Homo sapiens: one gene and its partners. The protein of the gene in region 2 interacts with the protein of the main gene of each other region in a biochemical or structural test. Each region holds a gene or a part of one and is shown on either strand. Other genes may lie near its edges.

What was found.
Region 1: the proteins of NTRK1 (region 2) and GRB2 form a complex in vitro, tested with the Homo sapiens proteins (one study listed by BioGRID).
Region 3: the proteins of NTRK1 (region 2) and FRS2 form a complex in vitro, tested with the Homo sapiens proteins (one study listed by BioGRID).
Region 4: of the proteins of NTRK1 (region 2) and NEDD4, one has a biochemical effect on the other in vitro, tested with the Homo sapiens proteins (3 studies listed by BioGRID, with this or other methods).

The regions. Positions count from the first base shown.
Region 1 is NC_000017.11:75,332,657-75,339,688, forward strand, and holds part of GRB2 (growth factor receptor-bound protein 2), read right to left. Parts: intron 6,557-7,032; exon of another isoform or gene 6,144-6,556; intron 142-6,143; coding exon 44-141; intron 1-43. UniProt on the Homo sapiens protein: Non-enzymatic adapter protein that plays a pivotal role in precisely regulated signaling cascades from cell surface receptors to cellular responses, including signaling transduction and gene expression.
Region 2 is NC_000001.11:156,856,896-156,863,864, forward strand, and holds the start of NTRK1 (high affinity nerve growth factor receptor isoform 2 precursor), read left to right. Parts: upstream 1-3,969; 5' UTR 3,970-4,039; coding exon 4,040-4,251; intron 4,252-6,969. Other genes in the region: INSRR (insulin receptor-related protein precursor), read right to left, coding at 1,642-1,726. UniProt on the Homo sapiens protein: Receptor tyrosine kinase involved in the development and the maturation of the central and peripheral nervous systems through regulation of proliferation, differentiation and survival of sympathetic and nervous neurons.
Region 3 is NC_000012.12:69,465,590-69,473,419, forward strand, and holds the start of FRS2 (fibroblast growth factor receptor substrate 2), read left to right. Parts: upstream 1-4,798; 5' UTR 4,799-4,941; intron 4,942-5,099; exon of another isoform or gene 5,100-5,117; intron 5,118-5,203; exon of another isoform or gene 5,204-7,830. UniProt on the Homo sapiens protein: Adapter protein that links activated FGR and NGF receptors to downstream signaling pathways.
Region 4 is NC_000015.10:55,983,608-55,990,639, reverse strand, and holds part of NEDD4 (E3 ubiquitin-protein ligase NEDD4), read left to right. Parts: intron 1-7,032. UniProt on the Homo sapiens protein: E3 ubiquitin-protein ligase which accepts ubiquitin from an E2 ubiquitin-conjugating enzyme in the form of a thioester and then directly transfers the ubiquitin to targeted substrates. Specifically ubiquitinates 'Lys-63' in target proteins.

The DNA of each region.
Region 1 (7,032 bases), on a different chromosome or scaffold from region 2:
GAGGTGGGTCCAACCCTTCCAAGACTAATGGAGCTTAACTTACGGATGTGGTTTCATTTCTATGTAGTTCTTGGGAATGAAGCCGTCTTTTCCATTAAGCTCTGCCTTGTACCAGTTCTGATCACATTCTTCGTTCAAAACCTGAAAAGAAATAAGACAACAAAAAAACCCAATCATTTCCTTTTCCCTTTAAAAAGATAGTTACAAGACAATTATGCTATCTTTTAGGTCTGTGAACGGTTTCACTCGAAGTATTATCAGTTATACGGATATAAGACTCCTTTTAACTTCAAACAACCAGCATTATGTTAAACTCTGTTAAAATGAAACAGAAATTATCTCTGAAAATGAAAATTCAGGCTCCCAAACATCTGGAATGAAACCCTCAGTAAGGAAGGAGAAAGAAGAATGGCAAGTATTAGTTGTTTTTTTTTTTTAAGACGGAGTCTTGCTCTGTCGCCCAGGCTGAAGTGCAGTGGCGCGATCTTGGCTCACTGCAACCTCCACCTCCTGGGTTCAGGCGATTCTCCTGCCACAGCCTCCCGAGTAGCTGGGATTACAGGCGCATGCCACGTTGCCCAGCTAATTTTTGTATTTTTAGTAGAGATGGGGTTTCACCATGTTGGCCAGGCTGGTCTTGAACTCCTGGCCTCAGGTGATCTGCCCACCTTGGCCTCTCAAATTGCTGGGATTATAGGTGTGAGCCACTGTGCCCGGCCAGTTTTTTTGTTTGGTTTGGTTTTTCTAAGAGAGAAACCTGGAGAAGAGGTTCTGGAAAATGGCAAACACATAGGAGAATAAGGGAGCCTGACGAAGACAAAGTCTACTTTCTGGGAGAGAGAGGTGTCACAGCAGAACTAAGCAGCAACAGAACCTTTTATTAGACTCCTCTAGAGATCTTCCAACCGACCTCCAGAATCTACAGTGATACAGTCCTGGATCCCCTCATGGCTTCTCTGGGTTACCGCAAGTACGGGTCACCCACCAAACAGCTCCAGAACACTGCTGCTTGTGAGGACAACCATATGCCCTCGTATGGGAAAACTATTTTCAGGAAAAAGCATGGCAAATCCTACTCAGTTCAATAACCCAAATGCCACATTGTATTAAAGTTAGATAGTGCTGAAAGCATATCAACCAGCAGAATTCAGGCAGATGCCTTGGAAATCCTGGAACTGAACCACTGCATTCTACAGATGTAAAAAAACAAGATCAATGGTCAACCCAGGTTACGAGGTAGTGACCCCACAGAGCTAACATCATGCCCAGACTTTCATATTTCCAATGACCGTTCTCTCCAATGCTGCCTCTTGAATTGCATGTACCAGGCCATGCATAGGCTAGGCCATGACGCTGTAATGTGTAGAGTAATACAGTAGTCCTCCTTATCATGATGGATACGTTTCAAGACCTCCAGTGGGTGCCTGAAACCGTGGATAGTACAGGACTCTAGATATGCTATGCTTTTTCCTACACTATACACATACCTATACGTTTTATTTTTTTTTAGATTTATTTATTTATTTTTTTTTGAGACAGAGTCTCGCTCTGTCGCCCAGGCTGGAGTGCAGTGGCGCGATCTCGGCTCACTGCAAGCTCTGCCTCCCGGGTTCACGCCATTCTCTTGCCTCAGCCTCCCGAGTGGCTGGGACTACAGGCGCCTGCCACCACGCCCGGCTAATTTTTTGTATTTTTTAGTAGAGACGGGGTTTCACCATGTTAGCCAGGATGGTCTCGATCTCCTGACCTTGTGATCCACCCGACTCGGCCTCCCAAAGTGCTGGGATTACAGGCACGAGCCACCGTGCCCAGCCGATTTATTTATTTTGCCCAGGCTAGTCTTGAACTCCTGGACTCAAGGGATTCTCCTGCCTCAGCCTCCCAAAGTGCTGAGATTACAGGTGTGAGCCACCATGCCAGTCCTACCTATAAGTTTAATTTGTAAATTAGGCACAGTAAGAGATTAATGATGACTAGTAGTAAAATAGAAAAGTTTTAACAGGCCAGGTGTGCTGGCTCAAACCTGTAATCCTGGCAGTTTGGAAGGCTAAGGTGGGAAGACTGCTTTAGCCCAGGAGTTTAGGACCAGCCTGGGCAACATAGTGAGACCCTGTCTTTATATTTAAAAAGTGTAAAAGAAAAGTTATAACAATATACTGTAATAAAAATTTATGTGAATGTGTTATCTCTCAAAATATCTTTTTTTTTTTTTTTTGAGTCAGGGTCTTGCTCTGCTGCCCAGTCTGGAGTACAGTGACACCATCACGGCTCATGGCATCTCAACTTCCTGGGTTCAAGCTATCCTCCCATTTCAGCCTCCTGAGTACCTGGGACTATAGGCACTTGCCATGTTGCCCAGGCTGGTCTTGAACTCCTGCGCTCAAGTATCCTCCTGCCTCAGCTTACCTAAGTGTTGAGATTACAGGTGTGAGCCACTGCGATTGGCCAAAATATGTTATTTATATGTTGGATTGCAACTGGCCGCAGGTAAGGGGGGACTAGTATATACGGAGCAGAACAGAATCAGGTACAGCGTGAAAGCCACCCTATGAATTCTAGACTTACAACAAAAGGCAAAGGGCAGAAGGCATAAAGTTGGTAAAAGATAAAACAAAAATGTGAATACAACCCCAAAATGGTGGGCCCAGGAAAATGTTGGCTAGTACAGTGGTAATCTACACTGCATAACAAAGTTCTGAGAGGAAACTGGTAACATTCTTTACAAAATGATTTATTCAAGATGTTGAACAATGCTGTACTCGTAGCCAATCAGAAGCTGGATTGCTCTAAAGTGAGTGCTGTCTGTGTACTGCCATTCAAAGTGAGATGCAATAGAAAGGGTAGATAAGAATGACAGATGATCGACAACTAGCCAGGCTGCATTAATGACTACGCTTTCTTAACAGAGGGTATGCCCTGCAGAGCTTTGCAATGCTGGTGCTTATCTGCTATGCTTACCACACTCTGACTGCAGGTGCCAGACACTGGGTTTCAATGCTTAGGATAAGGTGATAAATCCTGAAAGAGCTAATAAATATGTGTAGCAAACTCTCAAAAAAAATTAGCTAGTGGTAAATCCCAGTGTATTCAAAGTTTCCAAGAGTCACATAAATATTGATAGAGTATTGATGAAAACTTTCTTCTAGTCATCATTTTGTTTCTCGTAAAAAAATCACATCAAAGACTGGAATGAGATAAAACAATATATGCAAGGTACACTCATAATTTTTAAGTCTTCATTTTAAAAACACTGCATTGTGCTGCAGCCAGCAATGGTGCTGTATTGATAGACAATTATAAAGCACACACCAAGGACAAGTTTGAGGAGGGAAAGTGCGCTTGAACCCTGCCGGGCCACCACCACCTGCCCCTGTACTGGCAGCACAGAAAACTCTGAATAGCCTTTGAGAAAAGGAGCTACTTTAAAAGTTATTTAAGGCCAGGATTCTGTTATCTACCAAAAATAAGGTCTAGAAGGAAAATGTGGTCTAATAATGACCTTATAAAGCATCATCCTATAGTAATAATAAAAACCCCACAGGCTTATAAACAATATTTATTATTTTATTTCAGAGACAGAGTCTACGTTGCTCAGGCTGGAGTAGCTGGGACTACAGGTGCGTGCACCCATACCAGCTATGAAGAGTTTTTGAAAATGTCTTAACTCCTGAAATGGTGAGGTGTGTCTACTTTTACTGTATACACTTGTTCTTGGAAGACAGAGAGTCAGACTGACAAAGAGCTGCTTGTAACCTATTTGTGCATCAAAACAGAACAAAGTAATCATTAGAAAGGGACACTTTTGATTTGTGACCAATAACTTTGCAGAAAAAGATAACTCTATTTACCTGCCAGGAGTTCATAGAGCTACACTCTCTTCTTGTCACCTTTACCAAGACAGAGGCAAATCCCTCTAAAAAGTGTCCCCTCCCCCAACAAACACAACTCCAGGGCAACTCCTAGATTTGACATCAACTTAGAACTATGGCTGTCTACAGAACAAAAATTATTACTTGGTGTTTAGTATGTTTTTCTCCCCCAGAAAGAAGGAAAATATGGAATTAATGCTTTTAAAAATGTAATTTTTTTTTTTGAGAGAGTCTTGCTCTGTTGCTCTGTCACCCAGGCTGCAGTGGAGTGGCATGATCTCGGCTCACTGCAACCTCCACTTCCCGGGTTCAAGTGATTCAAGTGCCTCGGCCTCCCAAGTAGCTGGGATTACAGGCATGCGCCACTATACCCAGCTGATTTTTGTACTTTTAGCAGACACGGGATTTCACCATGTTGGCTAGGCTGGTCTCATATTCCTGGCCTCAAGCAATCCACCTACCTTGGCCTCTCAAAGTGCTGGGATTATAGGCGTGAGCCATCATGCTGGCCAAAAATGTAACATTTGAGTACATGAATGGTTACGATTTTGGTTATCTGGAAAATTCTAGTATCCAGAATATCACGTTATCAGATAGCCCAGGTATTGCTGCACATACCTCTAAACCTCTTCACTCTAGAATTTCAGAAAAAGCTTGGTTCTGCCGGAGGCAAAACACAGGATGAACAATGCAGCTGCAACCCTGAGCCAGAGACCAGGCCTTTCAACCCAACTGCTCCACCTGCACTGGGAGCTTGCACACACAAGCCCTGAAACTGGAGTGATGTAATTAGATGCTTAAAAATTAAGTTTTATTCAAATGTTTAAGTATACAAAACAGCTACTGAAGTGTCGGGTTAAAAAAAAAAAAGAAAGAAAAAGAAAACAAAACAGCAAAGAACACAAATGAATGTTGAAGAGCTCGAGGTGGCAGAGACCAGAAGCATCTGAGGATGAGGCTGCACCTACAAAGATTGTTTCATTTGCTGTGGCTTTAGGTGAAAGCTCACATCCTTCACAAATAATTTTTATTTTATTACTGTTACTATTTTTTTTTTTTTTTTGAGATGGAGTCTCGCTCTGTCGCCCAGGCTGGAGTGCAGTGGCACAATCTCGGCTCACTGCAAGGTCCGCCTCCTAGGTTCAGGCCATTCTCCTGCCTCAGCCTCCCGAGTAGCTGGGACTACAGGCGTCTGCAACCACGCCCAGCTAATTTTTTATATTTTTAGTAGAGACGGGTTTCACTGTGTTAGCCAGGACGGTCTTGATCTGACCTCGTGATCCGCCTGCCTCGGCCTCCAAAAGTGCTGGGATTATAGGCGTGAGCCACTGCGCCCGGCCTACTATTACTACTACTACTACTACTACTACTACTACTATTATTATTATTATTATTATTATTATTATTATTATTATTATTTATTGAGACAGAGTCTCACTCTGTTGCCCAGGCTGGAGTGCAGTGGCACAATCTCGGCTCACTGCAACCTCCGCCTCCCAGGTTCAAGTGATTCTCTGCCTCAGCCTCTCGAGTAGCTGGGATTACAGGCACCCGCCACCACGCCTGGCTAATTTTTGTATTTTTAGCAGAGATGGGGTTTCACCATATTGGTCAGGCTGGTCTTGAACCTCTGACCTCAGGTGATTTGCCTGCCTTGGCCTCCTGAGTAGCTAGGATTACAGGCGCCTGTCACCATGCTCAGCTAATTTTTGTATTTTTCATAGAGACGGGGTTTCACCATGTTGGCCAGGCTGGTCTCGAACTCCTGGCCTCAGGTGATCTGCCCACCTTGGCCTCCCAAAGTGCTGGGATTACAGGCATGAGCCACCGTGCCCGGCCACAAATAATTTTTAAAGGCCTAGTCAGACTCCTGAGCATGAGCAAGCTGCTCCCATCACTGTGTCTTCACTTGCTTATTCACTCCCTCTGCACAAATCCACGGGTGAGCTCACAAAAAGTTTCCTTCAGCTTTAAAATCTCCAAGGAATGTTTTTAGCTATTACCCCACAGCTGCATTTTCTATTCCAACCCCCATATTCCCTCGAGTTATGACTTTGTAGCCACACGACACTTTGGTTTAACGGAAGCAGATTGATCAAGAGATGAGATTATAAGAGGAGGAAGAGACAAGTTTCAGTGAAGACAGTTCTTTTTGTTTTTTGGTTTTTTTTTGCAAAGAGACTGAAAATAATGTTAAGAGCCCAAATCAGGAAGAAATTTAAGAGATGAGGAATGAGGTGAGCTTTACACAGAAGAATTAAAAATATACAAGTCCTTTCTGTGCTGATAGCACTCACGCAAATGGTCAACTTTCCTAAAATTCACTGGACTTTCTCTAAGAAGTGTGGCAAGCATCAACCCCACAAAGTGACACAGTACAAGAAGGGAAAGGATTCTCTGTATGCCCAGGGAAAGCGGCGTTATGACAGGAAGCAGAGTGGCTATGGTGGGCAGACTAAGTCGATTTTCCGGAAAAAGGCTGAAACCACAAAGAAGACTGTGCTAAGGCTTGAGTGCGTTGAGCCCAACTGCAGATCTAAGAGAATGCTGGCTATTAAAAGATGCAAGCATTTTGAACTGGGAGGAGATAAGAAGAGAAAGGGCCAAGTGATCCAGTTCTAAGTGTCATCTTTTGTTTTATTATGAAGACAATAAAATCCTGAGTTTATGTTTTTTTTTTTTTTTTGAGACAGAGTCTTGCTCTGTTGCCCAGGCTGGAGTGCAGTGGCACGATCTCGGCTCACTGCAAGCTCCGCCTCCTGGGTTCACGCCATTCTCCTGCCTCAGCCTCCTGAGTAGCTGGGACTACAGGCGCCCGCCACCACGCCCGGCTATTTTTTTGTATTTTTAGTAGAGAGGGGGTTTCACTATGTTGGCCAGGATGGTCTCGATCACTTGACCCCCTGATCCACCCACCTCGGCCTCCCAAGAGTTTATGTTTACTTCAAAATATATATATATATGTACAAGTCAATGGAAGGGGACATGAAGGAACTCTAGAGGTGCTGTTTATCTCACATTTCCTGACCTGGGTGTGTTCTGTTTGTGAAAGTTCACTGACCTATAATGATATATACATTTTCCTTTTTCTTTCTTTCTTTTTTTTTTTTTTTGAGACAGCTTCAGTTTTCACTCTTGTTACCCAGGCTGGAGTGCAATGGCG
Region 2 (6,969 bases):
GTGGCTCCCCACTGCAGAAGATTCAAGTCTGAATGTTTCAGCCTGACATTCAGCTCCTGCTAACGTCTCCAGCCTCTACTTCCCTTCCCACCGAGCCCTCCGGTGTTATCACAAACACCACATGCCACATGCCACGCTATCCAGGCCCCATTCCTGATAGTTTGTTAAGAGAGGTGGGCAGGCAAGGCTGGCTCCCTGGGGGTTACTTCACATCTTCTCCCTGTTGTCATTAATGGTCCTGAGCTTGGCTCTGCCCAGCAGCTGTGTATGTGTGTGTGTGTGTGTGTGTGTGTGTGTGTGTGTGTGTGTGTGTGTGTGTATGTCTGAGCCCACGCAGATACACACACAAAAAAGAGGGAGAGAGAATGAGAAAACACTTCTATCCCTTCCAGGCAAAAGCCAATCAGGCTCTGCGAGGCAGATAGGGGTTCTCTCAGGCGCCCACTTCCCATCATGCCCCTGCCTCTCCAGGGCTCCCCTGATGGGAGTCATTTGGAAAAACAAATCTAAAACCTTCACAGTTTAACCCCTGCCTTCCCTCAGGACCTGGCTCTGTGCAGAGCTGCACTGGGAACAGAACATCTGGGTCCCCTGAGCAAATACTAGCCCCTCCAAGGATGTGCTCCTGTCCTGACAACCACACTCCCAGCTGGCATCTGCTGTGCAGAAGAGGAGGGGGTTCGGTGGTCGGGGGAGTGGTGCTATGCCTTACAGACAGAGGATCTGTGACTAGCACCCTTTAGGGGACCTCCTACCCAGCCCATTGCATCACTCTCCCATCTCCATGGGAAGAGGAGACTCCCCTGCCCCTGGGAGCCCCCAGTCTGAGGGGCATCATAGGACCTCTCGGGCAAGCACAGAGTCTGGATTCCTGAGCTGCTTCAGTTTGGAGGGGAATGGTGGGACTGGGGAAGGGGATACCTCCTAATCCTTCCCTTTTTGAAGCTTCCACCCTCAGCTCTTTTTCCTCTTTCCACCAATCCCCCAGCACCTCCATGAGGGTCATTTAGTCTATATAGTCCCCCCACCCCTCCTCTCTAAAACGTACTGATGGGCAGTATCTAGCCTGGGGGACAGGCCCTGGGGTGTTGAGGAAGAGCAGTCTTCCCCCAAAACCAGCCTTCCTCCCTGTAGGGATTGGGCCCTAAGAGGGGGGACACAGGACAGGGCCCTGGAGGCAGGAGCTCAGGACCCAGTCTAGCTTTACCCTTAGTTCTCAGAGCTGCAGTTTCCTGTCGGCAACATTGCCTCCATTACTTAATGGTGCCTGGTTCTCAGCTACCTATCCCACCCCTGCCTCTTCCCATTCAGTGGCCCTAGAGATGACTTCTAACACTCTCACGGCCTCATTTGGGTTTTCAGGCAAGCTTCACTGGGATCACAGTTTCACTAGTAGGGACGGAAGATATCTACTTGTCCACGTTTTGAAGCTCTTCTCATCTCTGAGGGAGCTGAGGGAAAAACACCTTTATGTGGGGAACTAACTGCTTTTCCTGCTGGGCAGTTCTCCTGAGCGCTAACCCCAACCCCCATGTTCCAGTGCAGAGTAAGTGGAGGTGCTGTGGCTGCAAGCTCAGTTTTTTGGCCTCCCAGCTGGCTGGGAGGGAGGTAGGGGTCTGGGAGCCAGTTCTGGGGACTCACCCTCTACTGTATCCAGGCCAAATCCCAAGGAGAGGAAGATCACAGGCAGGCATGCTCCCCAGGGCCACAGACTAGGCACTGCCATTGTCCCAGCCCTGGCTTGTGTCCAGTCCCGGCTCTCCTCCCGGTGACTCTGGGGAGAACGGTGTGATAAGCCCTAAGGGACACAGAGACCAGGGTTCAGATAGGAGAGGGAGGGCAGGGGCAGAGAGACAAGGAATCCCACACAGAGACAGCAGGAGACAGAAAAAAAGAAATGAGAGTCACAGAGACACAAAGACAGTGACAGGCAGTTGGAGACAGAGAGACTCAGCATGAGATTGAGAGATGGGGACAGAGATGCAGACAGTGACAGGGAGAGTCTCGGGCCTCCAGAGGGAGAAAATGACACAGGGTTCTGAGCAAAAGGCAGGCCGAGAGGCCAGCCAACCCTGAGGGCGGAGCAGCAGGCTGGGGACCGCTCCCAAGGAGGGCAGCGGGGGTCCCGGGGCGCGTGGGACTCCGCAGGGAGAGTCTCCCTGGATCCCTCCGGGCGCGCGGCCCCCCAGCGCCAGCTGACAGTGCTGGCTGCGGTCCTTCCCAGGGCCGGCACGCAGGGGCCGCGCCCAGCTCCCGCCCTCCCCGCCCCCCGCCTAAACAGATTGGTTCGCAGGGACCTTTCCGTTCTCTCCACCCCTCCCGCCAAGTCAAAATATTTAGCCTGACAACTGAGGGGAGGACAGGTCTGTTGGGGAAATAAGGCCAAAATACGGGGGGAGGGTGGGCCAAGAACTGAGCTTCCTCAAATCCCGCTGCGGCTGCAGCGGCTCCCGCCAACCCTTTGTCCCCACCACAGGCTTCTTCCAAGTGGGGCTGCACCGCCGGAGGGGCAGCCAGCGCGCCCGGGCTTCTGGGGAGCGCTGTGTCTAGATTCTGCTTCCCGGTGCCTTGACATCTGCGGGGTAACTTCTGGCAGCCTCGACCCGGGAGAACGTGGACAGCCCTTGGCCTCTGGGAGCCCCTCTCAGCCTCCTAGGAGGCCTCCTTGTCCTCTTTGGAGACCCCTTAGCGCCAGGCTCCGTCACCGCCTAGTCCCTTGGTTCTGACCAAGATCCCGAGGAAGAAGGCGATCACTGTGTAGGGCTCTGCCTCCGTCTGGTCACCTTCTTGAGCTCAGGCTGCTCGGTCGGTCTGTGTGTCCCTGTCTCGGGGACTTGGGGGGCCATCCGTGCTGGGGCCTTGGCGGAGAGAACCGTGAGCCTCTAGGAGGTCGTCCTTCCCCCGCTCCCTGGGGCCTTGCCTGTCTCCCCGCCAAGAGACACCCCTCTTCCCTTCGCTCTCCCCAGCTTGAGACGGATGGGTTAGTGCAGCCACGGAGGCTTGCGCGGTGGGAGGGGTTGGGACCAGCCTTCTGCTGCCCTGGGTGCTGGGGATCCCGGGGCTTTCCAGGTGCTCGGCCTCCAAGGTGCGCGGTCCTCAGCTCCACCCGCGGGCGGCTCCTGCGTCCGAGGAGCTAAGAGAAGATCTATTAATTTCTTCACGAATAAATCGATGCTCTTGTCAGGGAGGCGATCGATGTCAGCCCTGCCCTGCCTTGCCCTATCCTGCCCCGGGGCCGGCGCTGGCTGGCCGGGGTCAGGGACTGAAGCTGAGACCTGAGGCGTTGCTCACTGGGGGCTGCAGATCGCACCCCCAGGCACCCAGCGCGGGCGGGGAGCTCGCGCCTTTGCGCGCGGGCTTCTCGCGCCACCCTGTGGCTTCTCTTGGAGGCGCGGTCTTGGCTCTCCGGACTCCCTTCGGCCGGATTAGGCGACCCCTTCCCTTTCTCTGCCCCGTCTGTGTCTTCCTCCCCAGGTTCTGCGATTGATCCTTTGGTAGTCCTTTTCGTTTTCTTCCTAGAGTTCGGAGAATGTTCTACCTAACTTACTCCAAGTGACATGCTCACTCCCCTAGGCACGCGCGCCGCGAGGATGGAGCGCTGAGCCTGGGGCTGGCTAGGATGACCTGGACAGCAACCTTTCCTCAACGCAGTCATCTTCCCTCCTCCCCAAATGTAAAAATGCAGCTGCTTTAAGCTGAGAGAAATAACGTATCAGCTTCCCACCTCCGGCCTCAGCAGACACCTCCGAGGCGTTCTGCTGCGGCCCCTCAGCGTCTGCCGGAGCTGAGGCGGATCCTCGGGGAGAAGGCTGACGCTGGGGGCCCCTAACAGGGGAGGGGGCAGAGGGGGGGGCGTCAGAGAGTAGGAAGCGGGTGGAGAAGAGGGGCAAGGCGGGGCCGGGCGGGGGCCGCTGGCTCCGCCCTTTCCTGGCGGCTGGGTCTTTAACACCGCCCAGCGCACATGTCGGGGGAGGCCTGGCAGCTGCAGCTGGGAGCGCACAGACGGCTGCCCCGCCTGAGCGAGGCGGGCGCCGCCGCGATGCTGCGAGGCGGACGGCGCGGGCAGCTTGGCTGGCACAGCTGGGCTGCGGGGCCGGGCAGCCTGCTGGCTTGGCTGATACTGGCATCTGCGGGCGCCGCACCCTGCCCCGATGCCTGCTGCCCCCACGGCTCCTCGGGACTGCGATGCACCCGGGATGGGGCCCTGGATAGCCTCCACCACCTGCCCGGCGCAGAGAACCTGACTGAGCTGTGAGTGTCCGGCGGGCGGTGGGGGGGCGCGGGGACAGGCAGGCATTGCAGTGCCCCGAGGGCGCGGACTCGCTGCTTGTTTGCTGGTCAGGCAGGACGAGCACGGCGGAAGGCTGGCACCACGCAGCCTTCGGCGCTGCCCGGGCGTTCCTCCGCAGCCGCCGCTGCCCTAGCAAGCTTTATGGTCAGTGCCTGGATGTCCCCTAGTGTTCAGGGCAGCTGGGCCGCCGGCTTCAGGGAGATCGAAGGGGGAAATCTCCGTGGACCAGGTCTGAGAGAGCCTAGCCGTCTAGAAGGCGCTTTCTGGAGCTCAGCCAGAAGCCCCTGCTCTGTCCTACAGAGAAGGATGGTTACCAGCAGAGAAGTCCCCAGTTTGTCACCCTTACTGCCTTTTTCCTTTTCTAGGGGCAAGCCAGCCCCCGCCCACTTTCTTGTTATGAGGAGGCAACCCTAGCTTTTCTTCTGGAATTGGGGATTGAGCTGGCTGGCATTGGTGGGAGGCGGTGAGGAGCTGAGTGGTTGAGCTCTCCTCTTTCCATTTTTACCATTCCTTCCCCCAGAACCCGTTGATTTGGATCTGGGAAATGGGACCCCCTCCTGGATTTTCTCTCCCCACTCCCATCTCCCTCTCCAACCTTGTCTCTCTACCTGGGGCGGGGAGTCAGGGCCCTTGCTGAGAGACCCTCCTCCCTTTGGTACACGAAGCTGGGAGGAATCTTCAGCATTCTGCAGGACTCTGACATTCTGCAGGAATTGGTTACAAAATACTCAAGTACTTTTTAGCAGCTGGTGAAACCTATGGGAGTATGCGGTAATGACTGGCCTGGAGGTACTCAGGCATCATATGGTGATGGCTGGAAAATACTTGAATATTACATATGGCTATCATGGCCAGCAAGACATCTAGAAGAGGGGAGAACTGCTAGAAAATCCTCCTCCTGTGGCCTGGGGTTTCGAGGGTGGACAAGGAACCTTGGCCTTGTGCTGTGATGGGCTGGAAGGTATCCGAGGTGAGGATCATCACTGTCTGGAAGTTACTTGAGCAGCTTGCAGTAATTGGCACTGAGTTCCTTGGGTATCTCATGGTAATTAACGGGAAGGCACTCAATCTCTCTCTCTAATAGCTCTAGGGAGACCAGGAGTAGAGGAGATGGCCTTGTCTTGGTCTAGGCCTAGGTCTCTGCATGATGGGAGGGGGCATGAGAGACAGGTTGCCAGTCCTAGTCCAGTTCTCTCATCACCCTGGGCCTTCAGATTGGGGTCCAGACTCCTGAGTGCTCCCCATCAGGGCTCGTGTTTCCCAACTCTTTCCAAGCCCCAAGTGGGTCCAGCAGGGTAGGGATGGGAGTGGTAGGGGGAGTGGACAGGCCAGAACTGGGGACTAGCAAGCATGTAGGGTGGTGAGCTGAGATGTCCCCCTGGGTGGGGCTGCAGCCTGACATCCCCCTCCCCACTGCCTGCACAGCCCCCTCCCTCCTCACTCACCCGCAGAGCTAACGAGGAGATAATGGACTCGAATAGACAGATTGATTATGAATCCAAACGAATGAGGCAGCTTTGAGGCAGCTTTGAGCACGCTGGCCTGACAGCTCCCACACACCCTGCCAGCCCACTGCATTCTCACCCCCTCCCTGGGTCCCTACAGCTTGAAACCCTCTGGGCAGGGGCTGGGGGGTGGGTAGAATAGGGACTTGGCCTCCCTCGGAGTCAGTGGAGGTTACTTTATAGGCCTCTACTAAGTCCACAGGGAAACTTAGGACCTGATCCTGGCTGTCCTGGTGGGGCCAAGGCTGGGAAGGGAGGAAAGGAGGAAGGGAGGGGTCACTTAGGCTGGTCCTGGTTCCTATAAGTTAGGGAAAGTTAGAGGGTAGAGGGGGAGAGTTCTGAGAACCGTCAGTGAGTCAGGGGCCCCTGGCATGTGTATTGTTGGGGTGGGGGGGGCACACTAACATGTCACTACAGGGCAGCCGAGTTCTCAGGAACTCCCTGGTATGTCGGATCCAGCAGCTAGGCAGGCCCCAGGGCGTCAGCTGTCCCCTAGCCCCGAATGCCTACTCATTCTTCTTTCTTTCTTGTCTATCTCGCTTTCTGTAGCTCTCTGTCCTTATCTGTCTGTCTCCCTCCCCTTATCTGTCTTCCTTCTTGCCTGTCACTATCTCTCTGACCTCTTCCTGTCAGTTTCTCTTTCAGTGTCTCTGTTTCACTCTCTCTTTGTTTTTCTGCCCGTCTGCCCCCACCCTCCTCGTTGAGCCTTTCCATCTTTCTGTCTCTCTCTCTCTCTCTCTTGCTGTGTAAGTCAGCCAGTCTGTGCCTCTTCTCCCCTCCTCGACACTCTGACTGCCTCCTCTCATTGCTCCTCTCCTCTTTCCTGGGTCCCTCCTTGGGGTCCCTAACTGATAGCCTGTAAGACTCTTGCTTGATCTGCTGAAAAGATGGTAGGGGAGGTTTCGGTGGAGTAGGGGTTGCTGCTTGGGTGTGAAGAGGGGCCAGAGGCTATGGGGGTGCAGAGATGTTTGTGTGTGTGTGTGTGTGTGTATGTCTGTGTGTGTGTGTAGTACAGGTGAGACCAGGCAGTGGCCCTTGGGCGGGCACGTTTGGGAACACACATTTGCATGAGCACAGGCTTCGTCTGTGCTGGGTGGGGCAGTGGCAGGGATAAGCCTTGGCCTTTTGTGGTAGCAAGTGTTTCAGTACAACCTCCCACTGATGAGTGTGTGC
Region 3 (7,830 bases), on a different chromosome or scaffold from region 2:
TCAATAAATATTAGTTTAGTGGTTATGAGTGTGTCTCTGGGGACAGACTGCTTGGATTCTAATCCTGACCTCATCATTTGCTAGCTACCTGAACTAGCTTTGCTTGTGTCTCCATCCAGGAAAAAATAAATTAAAAAAATATATATATACCCTATAGGGTCGTTTGTCATCAAATCTATTTAAGTAATTGCTATTATTCATTTTTTGTCTTTCCAAGGCTGTTGACAAATAACATTAGCTACAACTCCATTAAAACGTTGGTGGTAATGATATTTATAATTTGATGTCTGCACTTGCCTTGCTTGTTTAGAAATGGTACAACGTGGCCAGGCATGGTGGCTTACACCTGTAATCCCAGCACTTTGGGAGGCTGAGGCGGGCATATCACCTGAAGTCAGAAGTTCTAGACCAGCCTGGCCCAACATGGTGAAACCCGGTCTCTACTAAAAATACAAAAATTAACCGGGCATGGTAGTGGGCACCTGTAATCCCAGCTACTCGGGAGACTGAGGCAGGAGAATCACTTGAACTTGAGAGGCGGAGGTTGCGGTGAGCTGAGATCGTGCCACTGCACTCCAGGCTGGGTGACAGAATGAAACTCTGTCTCAAAAAAAAAAAAAAAAAAGTACAGTGTAGTACCCCACAATTGCTATCCCAGAAAAACAATTTAAAATTACCTCAAAATACATTGAATAGTTATGAGCACATGTAAAATATATAAGGCAAAATTCTATACTTGTTTCTTTAAAACATCCATATGATGTTTTGGGACCAGTGGTCCCAAACTCTGTCTACCATAAAGATACCACATGTGGGTAAGGCCAACTCATTGCACTGTTTGATGAAGAGAGATGCTGCATCTAGCTAAAGTCACTGATGCCTTGTGGATGCATGCCAGATGTCTGCCAGAGTGTTTAAATTTTCAAGGGATGCCAGAAATTGGGATTTTTTTTTACATGACATTTCTCAATTTTAAAATTTTGACTCAATTTATTTCATGGTACAAAACTCTCTGGATCAAACAATACATTTGTCAAATCTTTGCCATAAATATTTACACTAATACATATGTACTAGTTACACTGTGCTGTTATTCAAAGCAAATGTTTTTGAGGCATGAATAAAAGATGAGGAAGACAAAATATAAAAAGGTCTTCAGAAACTCACAAGTCTAGTGGGGAGATAGGCAACAATGTCACAGAAAAGAGTGAAAAGTGTCACAGTAGAGTGTGGAAGTTAGAACTTAAGCTGTGTGGTTAGGATCAGATCTGCATTAAACCAACAAACAAAATCAAAGAACCCCATTATTTCAAAGCTTGGCAAAGGGTGGACACCCAAGTAGATGGCTCTTTTGTTTAACAAAACACCTTAATGGATTTTGGGGGTAGGAGCTATGCATAGACAGGGCCACAGCCTTGCACAGTTCCAGGGGGCATCATTTGTGTTTGTCACCTCTTGAGCATCATTCATGTTGTATTCTTTGTGAATAGCACCCCCTGGAATTGCACAACATGGTAATTGTGTCAATAAAGGTGGCCTGGAGTCTGGCCTGAGATGAGGATTGAGAGTTAAATCCTTCTACATAATAAAGTAAAAGGAATTTTAAGTCTTTCCTAGTGGGTAGAGGCAGGCGGGTAGAGGGATGCCTGGAATGGACAGAAGAAAAGGGTTAGGAGAAAAGACATCTCTAAGATGAGGATGGGCCAGCAATTTGGCAACAACCTGGAGCCGAATGAGCCTGGTGAGAGATTGCTTGTAATTTTTGCAAGAGATGCATACAATCCTCTGTCATCTTCTACCTCCAGGAGACACTGGTAAATGAAGTCAAACAACTTTTTCTTTGGCACTCTTCTTTATGAATCAGGAGATAATTGGGAAAGACTTCACCGTCCAGAATCACACAGCAACACTTGCCTAAACATACAATGCCTTAATAACTTGCCTTTTTACTGTTTTTCTTTAAAAAGCTGAAAGTGCTTACACTTTCATTTCCTCATTTGTTCTGACATTCCAGTGTGGGTGGGGCAGATTTATGATAACATTATTTATAGATGGAGAAATCGAAATAGAGATTAAATCGCTTAATCAATGTTGCATAGCTGGGGCAGTGGAGCCCACAGTGGAATTTGGTTCTCCAGGCTCCAGCCACGAAGTGGAAAGAACATGAGTTTTGGAATTAGAGGGATCTTTGCACAATCCTGATTCTGCCCCTTAACAAGAATGTGGCCTTAAGTCAATTACTTCACCTAAGTCTCAGTTATCCTCATCTCTAAAATTAAGACCATAAAACCTCATAGCAATGTAGTGAAGATTAATTTAGAAAACGCGTGTAAAGCCTTGGCATAGAGTAATTCCCAAATAATATTAGTTCCACCCCCAACCCAGTATTATCTGGTTACATTTCAGTACAAATTTAAAGTAATCAAAATGAATCCTCCATTATAGTAATTTTTTTTCTAGCCTCATCTTCTTTCACTGAGAGCAAAACATGAATAAAAATCCTTCAATAGGTCATTTAATTCAACGGCAAGAACTTTTGCTCCGGTAAGAGTTATCCCTGTTGGAAAAAATTAGAAAAAAAGAGGAATATGTGGAAGACAAGATATTAGTTCTTAATATCTTATGCAGTGGTTCTTAAACTTGACAGTATATCAGAATCTCCTGGAGGGCCTGTTAAAACACAGATTGCTGGGTCCCACCCCAGAGCTTCTGATTCATAAGATCTGGGGCGGGACCCAGTAATGTGCATCTGTAACAAGTTCACAGATGATGTTGAGAGGCTTAGTCCAGGGACTTCTAGGGGTGGGGCCCAGCAATCTGTTTTAACAAGCCCTTTAGGTGGTTCTGATGCACTCTCAAATTTGAGAACCACTGGGATAGTGGTGAAAAGCATCTGAGAATATGGTCTGCAAATTCAAACCCAGGCGGCTCCATTTACCAGTTAGATGACCAGATTAAATGACTAACCTCTAGCACCTCTGCATCCCACACAGAGCCTGATAATATCTGTGATTCAGGATTCCTCTCACTATCCCTTTAGGCCTTGAGTAAAAAGAGATGTCGGTGAGTCCTGCCAACCCACGCTGTTTTTTACTTCTTCACACTCTGAGGCACAAAAGGCTGCTTGAATTTGAGTATTACGGAAGTATTTGCCAACACTTCTGCGATCACAAAAATAAAGTAAGAAAGCCCTGTAAATAAAGCCAAGAGCAGTGGCATTGTTTGCATCTTAAATTTGTAATAATGGGTTTTCAACTTTTTTCCTTTCCCCTGCCTTTCATAGTAGAAACATTTAAAAATCTTCCCCGCCACCCCCCCCCCCCCCAGTTTCAAGAGATGTTAGTACATTTGTTTTGCAGATAGTATGCATTGCTAAGAGGCTTTTTTTTCTTTCCCTGCATCCCAGATACAGAATCTGCCTCAGATATCTGGTGCCTTTCTGATTTTGTGGCTGAGGAATCCCACGCCCTCCTCCTTTCCATCCCTTTTCCCTGTCTGGTATGTAACTCTGTGGGTCCTCATATTATCACTGCATGGAGCTTCACAAGCACCTGTATTTTTCCAGTTGTAAAAACCCCTACTCTTTCTTTTTTTTTTTTTTTTTTTTTTTGAGACGGAGTCTCGCTCTGTCGCCCAGGCCGGACTGCGGACTGCAGTGGCGCAATCTCGGCTCACTGCAAGCTCCGCTTCCCGGGTTCACGCCATTCTCCTGCCTCAGCCTCCCGAGTAGCTGGGACTACAGGCGCCCGCCACCGCGCCCGGCTAATTTTTTGTATTTTTAGTAGAGACGGGGTTTCACCTTGTTAGCCAGGATGGTCTCGATCTCCTGACCTCATGATCCACCCGCCTCGGCCTCCCAAAGTGCTGGGATTACAGGCGTGAGCCACCGCGCCCGGCCAACCCCTACTCTTTCTTATTTCCTTAACTAATCTTTTCTATTGCCTATTGCTGATGAGGTATAAGAATCGTTAACTTTTATCCAATGCCAGACATTCTGAAATGTTTATCATGCATTATCATTTTGGATTCCTACAATGCAGAGATGATTTTATAACTTGCCAGGGTGAAAAAATAAAAGTAAATAAAAGGAGACAAGCAAAAAGATTCCAGATCCCCACCCCAACCCCCCCAACCCCCCAACCCCAGCTCTCGCCTCTGTTGAAGTCACCAGTGATGACAGAATATAGGAATATAGTTTGAGCCCTGTTTTTAAATAATTTCAAAATCTTGGTATAGGTAGATGAGATTTATACACACGTGAATTAAAATCAACCAACATTTGTGAGATTGGGTTTGGTATCTTTGACCGTTTTTCTCCCCTGCAAGACGTAGATAATAGCACCAACCCCAAGGAGTTTGGGGATGATTAAATAAGTTAATGCACCCGAAGGGACTTAATACAGTGCCTACCACGTAGTAAGCGTTCAATAAATGTTAACTATTATCATTATTTTTTAAAGGAGGCAGATTGGAGCGTAGAGTACACTGAAGGGAGTCGGGAGGCCGGGTGTAGGCACTGGATTCTTGCACCTAATTCTCCGAGCCTCGGTTTCCTTATTTGTAAAATTAGCTGGCTGGAGTAAAACAACTCAAACAGCAGTTAAAGCAAAGGGTGCAGCAGTAGCCGGGGAATCGAGGAGGCGCGGGGCGGAAAGGGTTAGTTAGGAGCCCAGAGGCTGATCTGTGGGCGCCCGGCGAGAGAGGCCCCGCCCCGCCCTGGAGGCCCTGGCAGCTCCGGGCTGAGAGCAGTTCCGGTGCCAAAACCCTTCCCTCCCCCGCTCCCCCGGAAGTGCTTTTCCAAGATTCGGGCCGGAGAGAGGCCTTGTAGGCACAGCGGCTGAGACTCGATCTGCTCCAAGTAGGGGCTCCAGCGCGGGTCGGAGTCTGGGGGTTCGCGCCCGCCGACCCGCGCCCTGCTCCCTCTCAGCACCTGGGCGGACGGTGAGTGGCTAGGGAAACGGACTGGGACGGCCGCGGGCCCGCGTCGGAGCTGGCGTTCTCGTGCCCCCGCTGCCCGCTTCGGGATCCGGGCTGAGGGCTCGGCTGCCGGCGTCCGGGGAAGGGGATTGTCGACCGCCGCGGACTTCTCCGGGCCAGCGGGACGGGAAGAGCTGGCTGTGGGTCCATGGGGTGGGCGGGGCGGAGCCAGGGAGGGGGTTCCCAGAGCTGTTGTTGCTGTTGGGACTCGAGAGTGGGGATGGGCTGGGCCTCTGTTCGTCCGTCCGACCCCCCTCATGTGTGCTGCCCCAAACCTCGCCGCTCCCTAGTTTGGTATTCTGTGTCCGGCCTGGGGTAGTAGCTGGACACCAGACTCAATCTTGGGCTCCAGTTCCCGACTTTTCGCCTCCTCTGGGTCTGTCCTGGGGTCAGTAATTAACCCGGGTCCCAGGGGTGTCGTCTTTTCCCTCCAGGGTGGGGCGCTGCCTGTACATGCCAGGGATCTTTTGCAGGGCTTTTCATCCAGATTTGCTTCAGGGTTGTCCGGGATCGATTTGGACTGGGCTCGGAACCGGTCCTGGATACGTAGGTCGCTGTGGCACCAGCATGCTCTGTATCATCTTTACTCACTTGAAAGCTTGCTGAAGCTGTTGTTGAAGTAAACTTAAAGAAAAAACTTGCTTAAGGAAAATCAGTAGTTTAGACACCCCCTCCCCCGCCTTTTTTTGCAGACATACTAAAAAAAAAAAGATGCTTTTCTCTAATCTACACTCTTAATTCTTTTGGCTATCTGATGTCACAGTTGTATGATGAGTTCATTCAGAGGCTGTACGAATTGATTTTAAAGAGTTGGACAGTTATATCCTTTCTCCCAAAGTTTGTTTACCTTCATATTTGGAACTGTCATTTTTCTTAAGGAAAAATTGTTCTTGGATTTTCTTGAGAGATTCCTTACACTGTTAAAATTGTTGCTGCAATGCAGAGTTTCACACAGGTGGGCAGAGATGTTTTGTTTAAACTTATTCCATGAAGTGTTTACTTCGGATAAACTGAGGATTTCCTAGGGGAGAAAGTGATGTAGGTAGGTTTAGTGAACAGATTTTAGGTAGTAAACTTTACTGCTGAAAGGTTTGTAGGAAATATGGGTTTTCCACAATAAATGGTGATTTAAAAACTTTTTATAAGGGAATGCAGTTACTGCAGATTATTGCTATTAGCAGATGGCCACTGTTTTTGCAGCGTAAAGTATTCACAAATCACCTTCTTGAAACCAGTGACGCTATCTGCAACTCTCATCTTGTGTGTAGATTAGGGTTTATTCTGTAGTTTTTTGGGTACTTATGTCATTCTCTTTCCTCCCACCCCTGAAAGGGGAGGTGGTATCATGAATCAGGAAAAATAGACTGAAGTGACAAGTTCAGTGAGCTTTTCCTATGCAAAGGAAAATTTATTTCAAGGTTGTTGATTTTGAACAGGCAAAGGGTAGATGATTTTTAAAGTCCTTGGAAAAAATTGTGGAGAGATTAGCTGCACAACTTTTCTTTTTCCTCTTCCTTTCTTTTCTTTTTTCTTTCTTTTCGAGACAGCCTCATTCTGCTGCCCAGGCTGCAGCACAGTGGCCCCATCATAGCTCACTGCAGCCTCCAACTCCTGGACTCAAGCAGTCCTTCTGTCTCAGACTCCTGAGTGGCTAGGACTATAGGCACCAACCACCACACCTGGCTAATTTTTTTTTTTTTTTTTTTTGTAGAGCCGAGGTTTCACTATGTTGCCCAGGCTGGTCTTGAACTCCTGGGCTCAAGTGATCCTCCCATCTCGGCCTTCCAAAGTGCTGGGATTACAGTTGTGAGCCACCATCCCCAGCATATTTGCACAACTTTTAAATTTAGATAGAAACTGTAGCTTCTTCCACATGTGAAGTACTTAATTATTTAGAGCATAAGATTGGAATATTGGAATTGAGAGAATCTGGAAAAATAGTTAAGTTAGATGTAGTTACAGATTTGCAGGTATGACAATGTATTTTTAAGGGAAATACTTCAAGAGTTTTAAGAGCAGAGAAAGGTGATTGGGGAAAATCAGATACTGATTGTATTTTTATATTATACAAGTCAATTCAACAAACACTGAGCATTTGCTATGCATGTTATGCTATGTTATGCATAGCATGCTATTTGCTATGCTATGTTAGGTAACTATGTAAGGAGCAAATAAAGGTATAGCCATAACAGTTGAGTTTCATGTTTTGGTAATAATTTCTGAAATCATGAAGAGTTGAGTTGTATTCTTTAGGCATACTAACAATTTTTTTTGTAATTGGGACTTAACATTGGCGATGGGTGTTGAGTGCTTCATGAAAAGCGCTATACTAGGCATTTTAGGATATAAAGATTAAACTTTTGGTTTTTAGGAATTTGAAATCTAGAAGGGGATATAAGATTTGTGTAAACATTTACAACATAAACATTTGTAAATACTTATGGGTGGTTTGAGGTAAAGTTTGGAGTAAATTATACAAAAGAAGAAAGGGTTCATTTTTAGCTTAAGTAATGGAAATTTGTGGAGATAGCTCAGAAGCTACTGTTTATTGAGCATTTACTGAACAGACTTAATGCTAGTTGCTGTTTACAGCATTTTCTTAGCTTCACAGCAATATGTAAGTACCTTAATAATGAGGACAGTGAGGCTCAAATATGTTAAGTTACTTGCCTGGGCTATGTGGCTAGCATGTAACAGCCCCAATTTGAATCCAAATCTGTCTGGTGCCAAAGCCTGTGTGTTTCTACTGCATCATGTTGCTCCCCAATAAACTGGTAACCTGAGTTTAATGTTACAGAGAATAAGACTTTTCTAAGACAAAGATTTATGGATTGGGAGTAGGTGGGTGAAGAA
Region 4 (7,032 bases), on a different chromosome or scaffold from region 2:
GCACTTACTTGAGATTTGCAGAGTGGAAATGAGGTGGAGCATATTGTTTTGTTTCTTTGGCTTTTTCTGCTGATAAGCACAGTCATGTAAACATCTAAATTTTCTGCGAAAGTATTCCAGTATCTGGTAACTTGCTTTGTACATATTGATAGGAAGTCACCGAAGTAGTGGTGGTAGTGGCTTCCAGACGTCAAGATTGATTATATTCTTGAAGTCATCAGTTCTGGTGATGACTCCTGATCATCTACCTTTCTGACTGGGAGAGGTAGTAGCTTCCTGGATGGGTCAGTTCTGCCATGTTTCTGATCTTCTAGAACTGCAGTCCCCAACTGTTTTGGCACCAGGGACCGGTTTCATGGAAGATAGTTTTTCCATGGACCGGGGATGCGGTCCAGTGGTTTCAGGATGATTCAAGCACATTACATGTATGGTGCACTCTACTTCTATTATGATTACATTGTGATATGTAATGAAGTAATTATACAGCTCACCGTAATGTAGAATTAGTGGGAGCCCTGAGCTTGTTTTCCTGCAACTAGATGGTCCCAAGTGTGGGTGACGGTAATGGGAGACAGGGAGACAGTGACAAATCATCAGGCATTAGATTCTTATAAGGGGTACACAACCTAGATCGCTTGCATGGACAGTTCACAATAGGGTTCATGCTCTTATGAGAATCTAATGCCGCTGCTGATCTGACAGGCAGCAGAGCTCCGGAGGTAATGTGATCGGTGAGGAGTGGCTGTAAATACAGATGAAGCTTTGCTCACTGGCCTGCCACTCACCTCCTGCTGTGTGGCTGGTTCCTAAGGTTGGGGACCCCTGCTCTAGAAGTCCAGCCTAGCACCTACTCTTCCAGCTCTTCCAAAAATTTTGTAAGCATCTAATCCCCTGTATTAGCTTCTTTCTTCTTAAAGCATCTAGAATGATTTCTGTTTCCTATAAGAAAGGCTGACTGAAGCAAGGAAAAGAAGGAAGGAAATAAAGAGGAAAGAGTTCAGAGTCTCCGCTATCGGTATGGAGAGTGCAGTTTGCACATACAGAATAATAGATGCCCCTGGTGGCAGCAGCCACAACAGTGCATAAGTAGCAGGGTAAGAAGGGCATATTCTGATACTTCTGGACCCACTAAGGCTGAGCAGAAACTGACCCTTACTCAGTCTGGGAACAAACTTCCCAAACCTTTATGTACTACACACAAAGGAGGAGAAGCATAGGTTAAGCAGCAGCTGTATTAGTAATTTCTCCCAATCTTTCATGTATTGTTTTTGCCATTAGTGCTTTTTTGCAACTCTTTAATTCCAGGATCATTGTAAAGTATTTTTCATGGAGCAGGGACTAAAGAAGTGAATAAATATAGTGTATTTTTAAAATAATTTATTTTTAAATTATGTATTTACTTTTGAGACGGAGTCTTGCTCTGTCACACAGGCTGGAGTGCAATGGCGTGATCTCAGCTCACTGCACCCTCTGCCTACCAGGTTCCAGCGATTTTCCTGCATCACCCTCCAGGGTAGCTGGGATTATAGGCACGCACCACCACGCCCAGCTAATTTTTGTATTTTTGGTAGAGATGGGGTTTTACCATGTTGGCCAGGCTGGTCTCGAACTCCTGACCTCAGATGATCCGCCTGCCTCGGCCTTCCAAAGTGCTGGGATTATAGGCGTGAGGCACCGCGCCCGTCCTATTTTAAAATTATTTTAAACCATCAGAAAAGTTGAAAGTACAACACAAAGAGCTCCAGTATTCTTCTCATACAGATTCTGCAACTGTTAACCTTTTCACTGCAATTGTTCCATCACCTTTTTTTGCCATTTTCATTAATCTTTTTCTGAACCACTTGAGAGCAAGCTGCAGACACAATGCCCCATCATCTTTAAATACTCTAGTGTGTATTTTTCTAAAACAAGAATACTTTCCTGCATAACAACCATACCCCCTTCCAAGCTAGGAAATGGACACTGATACAACAATGCCATTCAATCCACAGATACCATCCAAATTTTGATAAATGTTACTAATAATTTCTCTTTTTCCTTTTCTGGTCTAAGAACCTATCTGGGAACATATATTGCTTTTACGTGGCATGTCTTTGCAGTCTCTTCTAATCTGTAACATTTCCTCAGTTTTTCTTTTTTTTTTTTTTTTTTTAATTTTTTTTTTTATTATACTCTAAGTTTTAGTGTACATGTGCACATTGCGCAGGTTAGTTACATATGTATACATGTGCCATGCTGGTGTGCTGCACCCACTAACGTGTCATCTAGCATTAGGTATATCTCCCAATGCTATCCCTCCCCCCTCCCCCGACCCCACCACAGTCCCCAGAGTGTGATATTCCCCTTCCTGTGTCCAAGTGATCTCATTGTTCAATTCCCACCTATGAGTGAGAATATGCGGTGTTTGGTTTTTTGTTCTTGCGATAGTTTACTGAGAATGATGGTTTCCAATTTCATCCATGTCCCTACAAAGGACATGAACTCATCATTTTTTATGGCTGCATAGTATTCCATGGTGTATATGTGCCACATTTTCTTAATCCAGTCTATCATTGTTGGACATTTGGGTTGGTTCCAAGTCTTTGCTATTGTGAATAGTGCCGCAATAAACATACGTGTGCAATGACTTTCTTCACAGAATTGGAAAAAACTACTTTAAAGTTCATATGGAACCAAAAAAGAGCCCGCATCGCCAAGTCAATCCTAAGCCAAAAGAACAAAGCTGGAGGCATCACACTACCTGACTTCAAACTATACTACAAGGCTACAGTAACCAAAACAGCATGGTACTGGTACCAAAACAGAGATATAGATCAATGGAACAGAACAGAGCCCTCAGAAATAATGCCACATATCTACAACTATCTGATCTTTGACAAACCTGAGAAAAACAAGCAATGGGGAAAGGATTCCCTATTTAATAAATGGTGCTGGGAAAACTGGCTAGCCATATGTAGAAAGCTGAAACTGGATCCCTTCCTTACACCTTATACAAAAATCAATTCAAGATGGATTAAAGATTTAAACGTTAGACCTAAAACCATAAAAACCCTAGAAGAAAACCTAGGCATTACCATTCAGGACATAGGCGTGGGCAAGGACTTCATGTCCAAAACACCAAAAGCAATGGCAACAAAAGCCAAAATTGACAAATGGGATCTAATTAAACTAAAGAGCTTCTGCACAGCAAAAGAAACTACCATCAGAGTGAACAGGCAACCTACAACATGGGAGAAAATTTTCGCAACCTACTCATCTGACAAAGGGCTAATATCCAGAATCTACAATGAACTCAAACAAATTTACAAGAAAAAAACAAACAACCCCATCAAAAAGTGGGCGAAGGACATGAACAGACACTTCTCAAAAGAAGACATTTATGCAGCCAAAAAACACATGAAGAAATGCTCATCATCACTGGCCATCAGAGAAATGCAAATCAAAACCACTATGAGATATCATCTCACACCAGTTAGAATGGCAATCATTAAAAAGTCAGGAAACAACAGGTGCTGGAGAGGATGTGGAGAAATAGGAACACTTTTACACTGTTGGTGGGACTGTAAACTAGTTCAACCATTGTGGAAGTCAGTGTGGCGATTCCTCAGGGATCTAGAACTAGAAATACCATTTGACCCAGCCATCCCATTACTGGGTATATACCCAAAGGACTATAAATCATGCTGCTATAAAGACACATGCACAGTTTTTCTTATCCTAGACAGTTTTAAGAAGGACAGGCCTTGGCCGGGCGCGGTGGCTCACGCCTGTAATCCCAGCACTTTGGGAGGCCGAGACGGGTGGATCACGAGGTCGGGAGATTGAGACTATCCTGGCTAACATGGTGAAACCCCATCTCCACTAAAAATACAAAAAAAAAAAATTAGCCGGGTGTGGTGGTGGGTGCCTGTAGTCCCAGCTACTCGGGAGGCTGAGGCCGGAGAATGGCGTGAACCTGGGAGGCAGAGCTTGCAATGAGTCAAGATCATGCCACTGCACTCCAGCCTCGGCGACGGAGCGAGACTCCGTCTCACAAAAAAAAAAAAAAAAAAAAAAAAAGCAAGGACAGGCCTTACATCCTACGATGTTTCTCATTTTGGGTCTGTTTGGGTCTGTTTAGTGTTTCTTGATGACCATGTTCAGGTCACGCTCTCTTGGCAGGAATCATAGAAATGATGCTGTGTTCTTCGCATGCATCACACCAGGGGACACATGATGCTGACTTGTCCCAACACTGTCAGTGACCTTAATCACTTGGTCACCTTGGTGTCTGCCAGGTTTCTTCTCTGTAATGTCACCTTTTTTCTCTTTATAATTGATAGTATTTTCAGGGGACATATCGTAAGATTATGCCAATATCCTATTTCTCGTCAAGTCTTCATCCTCAGTTTTAGCATCCATTGATGAATTCTATCTGAACCAAACACCACTATTTTGTTTTATTTCCATCTCTGTTAGTTGGCATTCTATGTAAGAAGAGCTTTCCTTTTCCTGTCATTTATTTATATCAGCATAGACTTGTAAAATCCCACTTTATTCAGCAGGTTGTAATCAGTTACTGTCATTAAATATTTTATTGCTCATACTGTCCCAGTTTGTCCAGTGGGAGCCCTTTCAAGGAGGTTCCTAGGTCTTCGTAACAAGTCCCCATCATTCTTTGAACACTTTCTGGCAGAAGTTGTTCCAGGCTTCTCTTGTATTTTGCTTGGCTCAGCTATCTACAATCAGCCATTTTCCCTAGAAGCACTGGTCCTATTTAGTATAAAATGGTTTTTACATGCTACAATTTGGGTACTTGGTGTGCTCATTGTTACTGGGATATACTCTTGGACCATCTCTGAACAGTTAAGCGTGTGTGTGTGTGTGTGTGTGTGTGTGTATGTGTACTCTACACACATATATAAGTATACACAAAGATCTATAGCTATTTCTATATCAATCTGTAAATACATAAATTTAAAAATCATGAATTCATACTGATTTTTTCCAATTCAAACCTAATACCTGAGTTCCTTTATAGCCATAAGTACCTTTTCTAACAGTGAAAAAATTTGACTTTTATTATCCTTAATATATTTGTTCATTGACTTATGTGTTCAGTGTAACTAACTTCCTGACCACGCAGACATCTCCTCTGCCACTTCAGCTCTTCACATCCTTGGATGCCAGTGGGAATATTGCTATTCTCTATGCAGCATCCCTGTGCAACGCCGTCCTCCCCTCCTCAGTACCCTTGCCAGTGGGCACCCTTCTGATGCATCTCTGTATGGTATCTCCCTCCTCCCCTCAGTGCCCCGTGCTGGCGAGCATGCCAACCATGCACCTCTGTGAAATTCACCCTCACTCCACAGACATTTTCTGTAGTGGCCTGTGATTGACTGCTCTGCGCCAGGAACAGAAAAGGAGAAGGAACTATAATTTCTTTTATAGGTAATTAGGAATTCATATATCACATAGGAGTAGAATCTTTGAGCTGGAAGAGACCTTGTAAATAAATCATTTAGGGTGAGCAGGGGTATAGAAAATGGGATTCTTTTGTGTTGGAATTCTGGCCCTGTCACTTACTTGGTGAATCTTGCATAATTAAACATCAGTCAGAGCAGGATATTTAAGTCTGCTGATTCTCCCATCCCCTTGCTGTCTCAGAAATATTCTATAGCATTTGGAGACATGCAGGAACCAGTTGAACACAATTGCTTCTCAATCTATCATGGTTATCTACTCCAGAGCTGAATCTTTAAGTCAGATAGCTGATTTGAATTGCTGAACCCATTGTTCTGCTGAATTCTGTGGCAATTGATGTTACTTCTTCTTTAGGACTTCTATTTCTTCTGGCCTCCTTGCCAATAGTATCAAAGTTTAAGAGGATAAATGAATGGGGAGGGGATAGGAGAAGTCTGGAGATAAATGCAGGGAGAAAGGCACAGCACAAACAAAAAGCATTTTGATAAGGCTTTTCTGAAAGTTGAGTAAATATGTCTGTAGCCCATTATTATAACTCATGGCTGGACTCAAATGTCTGGCTTCAACTGATGCGAGACATGTTGGGGCAATGAAGAGAGTAATATGAACAAACAATCATGGCCGTCAATAAAGATGCTTTAGTGAAAGTATTCTCCTTTGGGAAAAAGAGTCAACCTAAATAAATAGCAACTGCCTTTAACTGAATACCCACTCTGTGCCAGGCACCAGGTTAGATTTTTTCATACTTTAGCTGTAATCATCACAACATTATTGCAGAAGTAGGAAGTATTACCCCCATTTTAGAGATAAGGAATATGAGATTCTGATTTGTTCAAGAACCTTCTCCCAGTAGGGAGAAGTGTTATATTCATAACAAACACTTGGTCCTTCCACTTTCCTGCTACTAATACGCAAATAAAATAATTTAACAGAAGAGACTTTTTCTCAGGAATATGATGAATGTGAATGGAATGTGTGCAAAATTAACTTGTAATTGTTATGCTCTCATTTCCACATCTTCTGTCTTTTCTTGATAAAGCTTTTAGGTGGACCTCTGAAGTACTTGATTTCTGTATTTGCTTAACAAATATTTGATGAACACTATGTATCAGGCACGTGGGTCAGGGCATGAGGTATAATGATATAGAATATACTTTACCGATTTTATAGCCAAGAGGGAGAGAGAAACATTAAATAAATTATCACACATCAATATTTTATAAGTGTTATTAAGGAAAACAGTGTAAGATGAAAGTATTTATAACAGGCTGGGCGCAGTGGCTCACACCTGTAATCCCAGCACTTTCGGAGGCTGAGATGGGTGGATCACTTGAGGTCAGGAGTTCGAGACCAGCCTGGCCAACATGGTGAAACCCTGTCTCTACCAAAAATACAAAAATTAGCCAGGCATGGTAGCATATACCTGTAGTCTCAGGTACTTGAGAGGCTGAGGCAGGAAAATTGTTTGAATCGGGAGGTGGGGGTTGCAGTGAACCGAGACTGCGCCACTGCACTCCAGTCTGGGCAACAGAAGAACACTCTGTCTCAAAAAAAAAAAAAAAAGTATAT